Homo sapiens: one gene and its partner. The protein of the gene in region 1 interacts with the protein of each later gene in a pairwise test. Each region holds a gene or a part of one and is shown in the gene's direction. Other genes may lie near its edges.

The links.
Region 2: the proteins of TACO1 (region 1) and PPP1R16B interact in binary tests that used the Homo sapiens proteins (3 or more experiments, as listed by UniProt).

Annotation. Positions count from the first base shown.
Region 1 is NC_000017.11:63,603,850-63,608,865, forward strand, and holds the end of TACO1 (translational activator of cytochrome c oxidase 1), read left to right. Parts: intron 1-684; coding exon 685-791; intron 792-2,463; coding exon 2,464-2,591; intron 2,592-3,437; coding exon 3,438-3,615; intron 3,616-3,952; coding exon 3,953-4,153; 3' UTR 4,154-4,516; downstream 4,517-5,016. UniProt on the Homo sapiens protein: Acts as a translational activator of mitochondrially-encoded cytochrome c oxidase 1.
Region 2 is NC_000020.11:38,913,690-38,920,734, forward strand, and holds part of PPP1R16B (protein phosphatase 1 regulatory inhibitor subunit 16B isoform 1 precursor), read left to right. Parts: intron 1-4,467; coding exon 4,468-4,977; 3' UTR 4,978-7,045. UniProt on the Homo sapiens protein: Regulator of protein phosphatase 1 (PP1) that acts as a positive regulator of pulmonary endothelial cell (EC) barrier function. Involved in the regulation of the PI3K/AKT signaling pathway, angiogenesis and endothelial cell proliferation.

The DNA of each region.
Region 1 (5,016 bases):
TACAAAAAATACGAAAAAAATTACCTGGGTGTGGTGGTGCACACCAGTGGTCCCAGCTACTTGGGAGGCTGAGGCAGGAGGATCGCTTGAACCCTGGAGGTTGAGGCTACAGTGAGCTAAAATCATGCCACTGCACTCCAGCCTGGGTGACAAAGTGAGACTTTGTCTCAAAAAAAAAAAAAGTACTTTTCCAAAATACTTATCCAGGCCAGGGGCAGTGGCTCACACTTGTAATCCCAGCACTTTCGGAGGCCAAGGTGTGTGGATCACCTGAGGTCAGGAGTTCGAGACCAGCCTGGCCAACATGGCGAAACCTGGTCTCTACTAAAAATACAAAAATTAGCCGGGTGTGGTGGTGTGCACCTGTAATCCCAGCTACTCAGGAGGCTGAGGCAGGAGAATCACTTGAACCCAGGAGGTGGATGTTGCAGTGAGCCAAGATCGTGCCACTGCACTCCAGCCAGCAACAGAGTGAGACTCCATCTCAAAAAACAAACCAAAAAAACCCGAAAATACTTCTCCGTATCCCACTGAAACACTAGTTAAGGTATTCTAAGGTAACTGAGAGCTAAATGGTGATTTGCCACTCCTTTGGCTTGGTGGGGCTGGAAATCCCTTTTATTCTCCCATGTTGTAATGAGATGTCTTTGCTCACTCTTTTTTTTCTTTTTCTTTAAATCTCAGAAGGAGGCCCCAACCCTGAGCACAACAGCAACCTGGCCAATATCTTAGAGGTGTGTCGCAGCAAACATATGCCCAAGTCAACGATTGAGACAGCACTGAAAATGGAGGTGTGTACTGTTTGACATGCTTTTTATTGATCACAGCCTCTACCGGGCTCATGTCTGGATGGCCAACAAACACACTGTAAATTATCAGAGGGGCCAAGTGCAGTGGCTCACGACTATAATCCCAGCACTTTGGGAGGCTAAGGTGGGTGGATCACTTGAGGCCAGGAGTTTGGAGACCAGCCTGGCCAGCATGGTGAAACTCCATCTCTACTAAAAATACAAAAATTAGCTGGGCGTGGTGGCATATGCTTGTAATCCCAGCTACTGGGGAGGCTGAGGTGGAGGATCGCTTGAACCCAGGAGGTAGAGATTGCGGTGAGCCGAGATTGCACCACTGCACTCCAGCCTGGGCGACAGAGCGAGACTCTGTCTCAAAAAAAAAAAAAAAAATTATCAGAGAGAACGGTAGCAATGTAGTTGACGCCCTCAGCCTAGAGTCTTCTGAGAGCTCACCGTCCTTGGTCATTGGTTCTAGGAGCACAACTGGGAGTAGGATGCATAGGCAGTATGCAGGGCCATACAGTCAAGACCGGGACTGCTCAGCCAAGTTGTAGGGAGATGAGGTATTATAGAAAGAAGGGGCAGTGTGGGAGAAAGCCCTTACGTTAGGTGGAGGAAGTGTTTGTTTTTCAGATGTTTATGCCCTAAAGGAGAAAAGCCAGTAGAAAGGGAGAGGATGGGGGTGATAGAGATGGTGGGAGGGGCAGGTATATAGAGTCCACGTAAGGGTACACCTTTCTCTGGGGCAGGTAGGGAGGCTCTGAGGAAGTAATAGTTATCTTAATAGCTCAAAATTATTGAGTGCTTCCTGCAGGCTAAGCATGGATAAAAACTCTATGTGTGTTATCTCATCGAATCCTCAAAACCACCGTAAGTAGAAACTGAGGCACAGGAATGTTAGGTGAGTTGACTCAAGTCGCATAGAAAATGACAGACTTGAAACCAGATAGTCAGACTTTAGAGCCTGTGCTCTAACCGTTATGCTTATTGCCTTCATGTAGGCCATGGTGCAGAGAAGGTGGTGGAGACAGCAACTATTTTCCCCACCTAGTGGCCCTTTTTACCTTTGTGAAAGAGGAAGGGAGAAGTTATGAGTTGAGAATTCCTGGAAAGTTGCAGGACAGGGTGCTTGGAGTGGGGAATATTGAATACATGGACAAGGGATGAGTAGGGGCATGGAAGGTCCAGAAGAGATTAGTCCCTAGAGCTCTGGATTAATTGTTTCAATTTTGAGACCATGCTGTTTTCAGCAGCTCTTACGACAAGGCCTAGGTGTGTGATATTTCACAGCAGTACTCAGCAGCCCAGGGTAGGGACCTTGAGACTTGACCGGTGGGTTTCTTACAGGATGGGGGTGTAGGAGGATGAGTCTGAGTGGGATTGGGTAGGGACTAGATGTGGCATTTGGTTAGGGATGGTAGGAAGCAAAGCTGAGAGATGGCTGATGGATTGTTCAGGGACCGGAGAAACAGACTCCTTCCAAGTTAGGGGTAGTACTTCCTGTTACCTCAAAAGTTGGTTAGAGGGTGGGGACAAAAATAAAGATTGAGAGCTCAGGCTCCAGCCTAGAGAGCCCATCCCATGGAGTTAGTTTTGCGATACTTGTAGTTCTGGGCTGACATGTGGGAAGGAATTGGGAAACAGGAAAATGTGCTTGTGTTGTTTATTGCAGAAATCCAAGGACACTTATTTGCTGTATGAGGGTCGAGGCCCTGGTGGCTCTTCTCTGCTCATCGAGGCATTATCTAACAGTAGCCACAAGTGCCAAGCAGACATTAGACATATCCTGAATAAGAATGGGTAAGTGTGCGTCTGGGAGGAGTGGTAGGGGACAGAGCCTTTATGTTCCAATTCTCTGCAAGGCAAGTACTGTTGATCTCTGCTAGTGTTTCAGGGTTTTGTTTTTTGTTTTTTTGTTTTTTGAGACGGAGTCTCACTCTTGTCGCCCAGGCTGGAGTGCAATGGCATGATCTTGGCTCACTGCAACCTCTGCTTTCTGGGTTCAAGTGATTCTCCTGCCTCAGCCTCCTGAGTAGCTGGGATTAAAGATACCCACAGCCATGCCCAGCTAATTTTTGTATTTTTAGTAGAGGTGACAGGGTTTCATCATGTTGGCCAGACTGGTCTCGAACTCCTGATCTCAGGTGATCCACCTGCCTCAGCCTCCCAAAGTGCTGGGAGCCACCATGCCTGGCCATGTTTCAGGTTTTAAGCACACTTGCTCCTTAGCAGAATCTAATGAGTTAATTGACTTTCCCTTAATGTAGTTTCTACTAGCAGGATCCCAAAGACTTGTTCATCGGATGTAGAAGGGGATCTTTGTCCTATTATCCCCATCTGTAGCCATATAATGCCTAAGTCTTAAAATGCTCCACCAGGACTGGCATCTTAATGGCACAGGAAATTATCAGCTAAGTCTGCTTCCTCCCAACTGCAATCAGGGCAGAAAATCGAGCGTGGGGACATTCTTGGGCTGTTCCCTTACCCAGCAGCAGCTGCATTTTCTCCTTGAGGATGCGATCTGCTCCATGTCTGTGTGTACTTCATAGACTGGGTAAGAAAGAGACAGTGATAGAATGATGAGCTTTATGGAGGCTGAGCTTCTAGAGGCATCCACTCATGCCAGCCTGTTTCCTTCCCTGTCAGAGGAGTGATGGCTGTAGGAGCTCGTCACTCTTTTGACAAAAAGGGGGTGATTGTGGTTGAAGTGGAGGACAGAGAGAAGAAGGCTGTGAACCTAGAGCGTGCCCTGGAGATGGCAATCGAAGCAGGAGCTGAGGATGTCAAGGAAACTGAAGATGAAGAAGAAAGGAACGTTTTTAAAGTAAGCATGAAAACATGGGTGTTTGGTGGGCTTCCGGGAGGACCCTGATAGATGCCTTATGCATGCCTCTTGGTTTCTTCCTTCATGTGCCCCAGGGTATAGGTGAGACAGTTCACATATTGTACAAACATTTATTAAGTGAATACTGAATAGGACCGACTCTAGTGAGGACTATGAGAAAGAAAGAGTCAAAACATTGAAAACGATGTCCCTGCCAGTGAAGAGCTCAAACCCAGTGATCCATTCCAGTACTGACATTCAGGACTTTGCAAGGTCCTGTGTGGCTTTGTCTCATTACCTCCTGGCTCCTCACCTCCTGACTTTCCTTTATCCCTAGTTTATTTGTGATGCCTCTTCACTGCACCAAGTGAGGAAGAAGCTGGACTCCCTGGGCCTGTGTTCTGTGTCCTGTGCACTAGAGTTCATCCCCAACTCAAAGGTGCAGCTGGCTGAGCCCGACCTGGAACAGGCCGCACATCTCATTCAGGCTCTCAGCAACCACGAGGATGTGATTCACGTCTATGATAACATTGAATAACCAGGCTACATGTGCCCCCGGGTTCCTTCCTAGAAATGTGGCAGCCCATTCCAGCACACAGGCTTCTGCAGCAATCTCTGAGGGTAAAGCCGGTGGGAGGCTCAGCAGGCCAGGAGGCCCAAGGACAGGACTTGCGACCTTGAAGCCAAAGGAATCTCACTTGTGGGGCCTCCTTGTCAGCTCTGCTGCTGTCTCAGAGCCATCTGGATGAGTGTCCCGACACCCTCTCGGATGCAGGGCAGGACCACCCAGCTGGTCAGACTCTGATGTTGGGTAGCTGGCCTCTGTGGGGATTGTAAGTGCCCTGAGGCGCTCTGTACTAGAAACTGCTCTTAATAATAACGGTGATTATTGGTTGCTGCATTGCTGTTGTATGGCTCTTGAGTCTTCCTGAGTTTGTGTCCAGCTGTTGGGATCCTCTGGACTAACTTTCAAGTCCCTAGGCTTAGCTCTACTACTCCAATCCCAGGATTATTTTTTTAATTGGCCATAGAAATGTAGTTGTATCCAGGCACTCCATGGTCTGATGCTGGTCTTACAGCCTAAACCTGTCATTCATTCATGCAACTAATATTTCTGGAACACTAGCTATATACCAAGAACTGTACTTATCTAGAGCATAAGCTATTCAACTGGTGTCCTGTGTTAGATCCTGCTCTAGAAGGTAGGACCTGAACACAGGACTGCTCTTTACTGGAGCTGTCCCAGGGCAGTGTGAGCTGCTGTGCAAGCATCTGTTGCTCTCTTTGTGTGACTTCTGTGCCCTTCTTTCACCAAACAGCTTAAGGTTCTAGCCCAGTAGGAAATCAAGTGCCAGTGATAAGGGACTTGGCAGTGGCTCACACCTATAATCCCATCTACTC
Region 2 (7,045 bases), on another chromosome or scaffold:
AAGACAGAGGCTGCAAGGACTGAGGGTTGGGGGTGGGATGAGCAGGTGGTGTAATTGGACAGTTGACCAGGAATGTGTGTCTGGTGGTCAGCCCATTTCCAGAACGGTCTTCAGGAGAGTTTTTCTGCATTGCAGTGCTTGTTTACCCTCAGGGTGAGTCAAAGTCCAGGATCCTGTGGGGAGGGGAGCAGCTTAACTAAAATTTGGTTAAATCATTTACCGCTGGGCGCAGTGGCTCACGCCTGTAATCCCAGCACTTTGAGAGGCCCAGGCAGGCGGATCATCTGAGGTCAGGAGTTTGAGACCAGCCTGGCCAACATGGCGAAACCCTGTCTCTACTAAAAATAGCCAGGCGTGGTGGCAGGTGCCTGTAATGCCAGCTACTTGGGAGGCTGAGGCAGGAGAATCACTTGAACCTGGGAGGCAGAGGTTGGAGTGAGCCAAGATTGCACCACTGCACTCCAGCCTGGGCAACAGAGTGAGACTCTATCTCAAAAAAAAAAAAAAATCATTTAGCAAGCATTTAATTTCGGTTGATAAATTGACAGTTTAATCATTTCAGAGGAAAAGAATGAGAATTTGGGGGACTGTGTTTGGGTTGTCCTAGGAAAAGGAGGGGTCGTCTGAGCGTTCTGGAAATCCTATGGGGAAGGGTGATTCTGTGCAGTCAGCCATTCCCCAGAACACAAAATGTGGGGGTTTTGTTTAACCTTCCTGTTGTCCAGTATCTCAGTTCAACATTGCCAAGATGATGGTGCCTACCACAAAGGGTGTTCTAGGGTCAATTGTGTTCTTATTTGTATAGAACTCAGCCCATAATTTGTACCTCATTAAGCATTAGGCAGATAAGTACATTTAGAAGTTCCCTGCATCATGAGAAAACCTCTTTCGTCTAACCCACATCCTTCAGGCTGGAGTTAATTCCTCTTCCTTCAATGCTCTGATTTCTGACACTGGAGATGGATATAGGTGGGTTTTGTTTTCTTTTGTTGAGACAGGGTCTCATTCTGACAGGGTCACTCAGGTTAGACTGCAATGGTACAAACATGGCTCACTGCAGCCTCACCCTCCTGGGCTCAAGTGATCCTCCTGCCCAGCCTCCCATGTAGCTGAGCCACAGGCACGCACCACCATGCCCAGCTAATTTTTAAATATTTGGGTAGTGATGAGGTCTCACTATGTTGCCCAGGCTGGTCTCCAACTCTTAGGCTGAAGCCATCCTCCCACCTCAGCCTACCAAAGTGCTGGGATTACAGGCATGAGCCACTGCACCCAGCAGGGATTTTTTTCTTTTTAAACTAATAGATTTTTTTTTTCCGAGCAGTTTTAGAACTCTAGAAAAATGAGTGGAAAGTACAGATATTTCCCATATACACCCCCCTCCACCCTGGTTTCCCCTGTTATTAACAACTAGCATTAGTGTGGTACATATGTTATCACTGATGAGCCAATATTGATACATTATTATGAACTAAAGCCCATAGTTTACATCGGGTTTGCTCTTTGTGTCGTAACTCCTGTGGGTTTTGACAAATGCATAATGTCATGTGTCCGTCATGATAGTGTCACACAGAATGCTCTCGCCACTTGGTTTAGGTGGTTATATTAGACAGTTGAGATTGTGAACAACTGGTGAAAGAGACCAGGGCTGTCCCACTAAACAGCCCTGGTATTCTACTTACGCTTCCTCCCCAAACTCTAGCAATCACTGATCTTCTACTGTTTTCATAAGTCTTGCTTTTCCAAAATGTTATATACGTGGAATTATATAATATGTGATGCTTTCAGATTGGTGTTCTATATGGTTTTTTTTTGAGACGGAGTCTCACTTTATTGCCCAGGCTGGAGTGCAGTTGTGCAATCTTGGCTCACTGCAACCTCTGCCTCCTGGTTCAAACAATTATCCTGCCTCAGCCTCCTGAGTAGCTAGGATTAGAGGCCTGCGTCACTGCGCCTGTCTAATTTTTGTGTTTTTCTTTTAGTAGACACAAGGTTTCACCATGTTGGCCAGGCCGGTCTCGAACTCCTGACCTCAAGTGATCCATCCACCATAGCCTCCCAAAGTGCTGGGATTATAAGCGTGAGCCACCACGCTCGGCCTGTACATGTTTTTTTTTAACTGTCTAGATGATGCCAATGTGCATCCAAGATGGGATCAGTGTCTCAGATCTTTGCCACTCTAAGCATCAGCAGGAAATTCTTAGAAGTGCCAAATTGCAGGCCCCAACCCAGACCTATTGAATCAGAATATGGATTTTAACAATATCCCTAGGCAACTCACATACACATCAAAGTTTGAGAAGCACTGACTAGGACCACCAAGAAACGGTCTCTCCATGACATGGCATCAGTCTGCCTGCATAGTTCAGAAGGAGCCATTAAAAAAAAAAAAAAGGTTGGACTCGGTGGCTCATGCCTGTAATCCCAGTGCTTTGGGAGGCTGAGGTGGGAGAATCATTTGAGACCAGGAGTTCAAGACCAGCCTGTGCAACATAGTGAGGCCCTGACTCTAAAAGGAGAAAGCGAAGAAATACACACTCATAAATGGAAACTTACTATGGAAAGTGTTCTTTGCCTTATCACATATTACCATATATATATATAACATATATATGTTATATATGTTATATATGTATGTTATATATAAATACATATATATGTTATATGTACATATATGTTATATATGTACGTTTTATATATATTTATATATGTATGTTATATATAAATATATGTTAGAAAACTAGATTATAAACTAGATTATATATATATATCTTGGACATCTTTCCATGCCAGCTTGTGGAGAATTCCTTCATTCTTTTTGCCAGCTACAGAGCATGCCAATAGAAGTACTGGCCACAGTGTCCTGCTTGCCCAATGATGACTTTCAGGCTTTGCACTAATGAGAGAGAAAATCTGTGAAATGGGCTTGCTGGTGCAAAGTATACAATCTTTTCTAAAAATTTTTATCATTATTATTGTTTTTATTTTTTACTGAAGAGCTGGGGAGAGAAGAAAGGAAAAAAAGAAAAAAATTTCAGTGAAGGATGATGCAAAACTGTCCATCAAAGAGACTGTAGCAATTTACATTCTCACTTATTTCCCCATACCCCTGCCAACACTGAGTAATAACACACTTTAAACGTATTTGTCAGTGTGATATCCAAAAGTGATATTTTGTTGTTTTAATTTTTATAGTATTAACGATTAGTGGGGATGAATATTATTCCAATGCCATGTATATCTATATATTTTGCTGTGGGCTACATATTAGTATCCCCTGCCTACTATTTTTATTGGGTAGATAGGCTTTTAAAAATTGACTTTTGGCTGGGTGCGGTGGCTCATGCCTGCAATCTCAGCACTTTGGGAAGCTGAGGAGTGTGGATCACTTGAGGCCAGGAGTTCAAGATCAGCCTGGCCAGCATGGTGAAACCCCATCTCTACAAAAATACAAAAATTTGCTGGGTGTGGTGGTACGTGCCTGTAATCCCAGCTACTCGGGAGGCTGAGGCAGGAGAATTGCTTGAACCCGGGAGGCAGAGGTTGCGGTGAGCAGAGATTGCGCCACTGCACTCCAGCCTGAGAGACAGAGCAAGACTCCGTCTCAAAAAAAAAAAAAAAAGGACTTTTAAGAGCTCTTTATACTTTTAGAAAATTAGTCTCTTTTCTGTAATATATGTTGAAAATATTTTCCTAGTTTCTTCATGTGTCTTTTGACCTTGTTCCCTGTTCATGGTGATTTTTGCTGTGCTTTAAATGTTGTTGCATGTATCTATTTTTTAGTTTATAGTTTTTAGGAAGCAGCTACTTTTCAAACTCTTGTTATCCAAGGATTATTAGGTGTACAGGATCCCTGGGTAAGAATCTTTGTGAGATATGCTTCATATACAGAGGAAGGATTACAAGTGACTGAAAAACCCAACTCAAATGGACTTACACACAAGGAATTTATTGGCTTGTGCAACTGAAAAGTCTGAGCCTGGAAGGATCCTGGACTTCAAATGGGTCATCAGGATGCAGTCTCTCTTAGCCTTTCTTCATGCCAACTTTACTTGCAAGCAGACCCTTCAACATAGTATCTCCCCAGCCCTCAGCTTACGTCATTCTTACTACCCACAGTTCCTACAGAAACTTCTCTTTCCCAGTTGTTCTAGCAAAAGTCCCAGGGTTGCTTCACTGAAGCAATTTCAGTTAAGAACTCATCCCTGGGCCAATCCCTGTAGTGAAATATGTTGACTAGCTAGGCCTTGGGTCATGATCCAGGCCCTGGAGCAAGGCCAGGGGTCGGTCAACTGTACGGAAATTCATAGATTGGGGGTTCCCCAAAGGAAAACCCTGGCCCCGATACCCAGGGAGAGAAAACAGATAGAGGAAAAGTCCAAACAATAATGCCCTCAGCAGAGAGACAGGTGGATAGTAGGTTCAGATCTTCCAGCCAGCTGGTAATGTTGTCCTTCTCACTCGCAGAACCCCAGGCTGGAGAAGCCCGTGCTACTCTCCGAATTTCCTACCAAGATCCCACGAGGTGAACTGGACATGCCTGTTGAGAATGGCCTCCGGGCTCCGGTCAGTGCCTACCAGTATGCGCTGGCCAACGGGGATGTCTGGAAGGTGCATGAGGTGCCTGACTACAGCATGGCCTATGGCAACCCTGGCGTGGCCGACGCCACCCCGCCCTGGAGCAGCTACAAGGAACAGAGCCCTCAGACGCTTCTGGAGCTGAAGCGGCAGCGGGCTGCAGCCAAGCTGCTCAGCCACCCCTTCCTTAGCACACACCTGGGCAGCAGCATGGCCAGGACGGGCGAGAGTAGCAGTGAAGGCAAGGCCCCCTTGATCGGAGGCAGAACTTCACCGTACAGCAGCAATGGGACCTCGGTATATTACACGGTCACCAGCGGAGATCCCCCACTCTTAAAGTTCAAGGCCCCCATAGAGGAGATGGAGGAGAAGGTGCATGGCTGTTGCCGTATCTCCTAGTCTCCGTGTGATGGAGGAGGGAGATGCCTGGGGAGGGGCTCCTGGAATCCAGGCCAGCCCAACAGCCCTGGCTGGGGAGGTGTCAGGGCAGCTGGGGAGAGGTGGGCTCTGCTTTTCAGAGGAACTCAGACCCCAGCCCTCAGCTGGCTGCCCATAGCATCCCATGTCCCACGTCCCGTGGTTCTGCTTCCTGCTGCATCGTCTGCCATCTGACACAAGGCCTGTCGTGGCCTCCTGGTTCACTCTGCTGTCTGATCTTGGGAGGGTGGGCTTGAGATCCCAGCTCTATTCTTGGTATAAAGGCTTCTCCGGATCAGTACATGCATGTCACATTAACACACACACACACACACATATACACACACACACAAGCTCGATCAGTGTGTGTAGGAATGACATACCTGGGCTCAGGGGAAGCAAGGGGGCTTAGAATTTGTGGGGTATTCCCAAAAGGATGGAAGTTAAGACTCAGAGTCTCATTACCACTGCCAATGTGGTTTTAGCAGGGGAGGGGACCTGCTAAGCTGAGACCCATAGTCCTGCTCAGAGTTATCCCAAAGTCTGAGCCACCAGCCACACCTGACAGGGGTGAGAAGTCCTCGCTGTGTTCAGAGGGAGCCAGGAATCTACATGGGTAGATGAGATAGACACAGACCTGCTCCCCGCAGCCTTGTTGAGAGCCACACTTCTGCCCATGCCAGGAGCCAGCTGTGTGACCATCCAGGGGTGGAGGGGGAAAACCAGGCAATTTCGTTCCTGGAATCAACCAAATCATGTTTTCCTCTTGGATGGAAGTGTCAAAGGCAGAAGGGTGTGGGAGGGGGACAAGGTCAGTATTTACCAAAGTGTATCTGATTTTAAAAATTCCTTTAGTCTGTAAAACTCCTAGAGGGAGGGAGGTAACTGAATTCACTTCTTTTTGTGGATCGTATCAAGGTCACTGGGTTTTACTGGCTGGTGCTGGGAAAATGAAGCTAAGTGAGGAGCTTCCATTGGAATGCTTTTCCAGGGAGAGAGGCCAGTTAATTTAAAAAAAACAGTCGCTAGTTAACAGCGACAGAGCCCAGCACCCTGGGGTCTTTGTGAATATCCAGACTGTTTCAGCCCAGCCCATCTCAGCCAACCCTCCTTAGACTGAGCTGTCAGAGCAAGCAATTAGGGGCCAGCCTGCCTCCACCTCCCACCCCCTTCCACCTCCATCAGTCATGTGTGCAGAGTCAGTGCTCGGGATCCCGGGCCCAGCTTTTGCCTTTTTGGGGATGCTTGGTGAGACAGATTTGCCAGTCAGCCCTTTTGAGTTCCCGCCTCACCCAGGGGCTCCCAGCCTGCACTTGCAGGAGTGGTGATGCCCCAAGTCTGCGAATCCAGGGTGCACGTGGTCAATATCCCCTCCTGCATTCAGGAGAGCCATGGTAGGGCTAGAGTTGGGTCTTGCCCAGCCCTGCAGTTTCATAGTCCCAGCCTTCCTGGTGCTGGGGAGGGAGGACTGTGAATGGCTGTTCTCCCCTCACTGCTGAGTCTCCCAGGACCCCCTTTGGAGATGCCCATGGCATGGGCACTGCCCACAGGCTCAGCCAGAACCTCTTGGTGTACCCGATAAGCTGCAGGTTATCCCTTGCTCTGTGCGCCTTTTATTTGTCCTTAAACTACCTCCTTAGAGCTCTGAAGGGGTCTCCTAGTTCCAGATTTTAATTTGGGGAACAGATCTGGGTTCTTTTTAACCCTCTTCTTTCTCAGTCTATGAGAAACTTGCCCTGAGGGGCACCTGGGCTAGGGGCTTGGGACTGGAAGACCATCCCCGCCTTGTGCCACAACTTTGGTCATGGGATCTGCTCTTTGTCATTCTTAGCCCCCTACTGTGGCCCCCATAGCCCCATAACCCAGAGAGGGAGCTGGACTTCAGGGAGCCTGAGTGATGCTTTCCCAGGAGCAGGGCAGCTGGCTGGACCAGAAAGTAGAGGGCCCATGGGAGTGACTGCACCCTTGGTGGCTGCTGGAAGGGGAGAGGTTCTCAGCATCAGGCCACCTCCACCCCAATGCCAGGATAGATGTATTCTAGAGTAGGGGT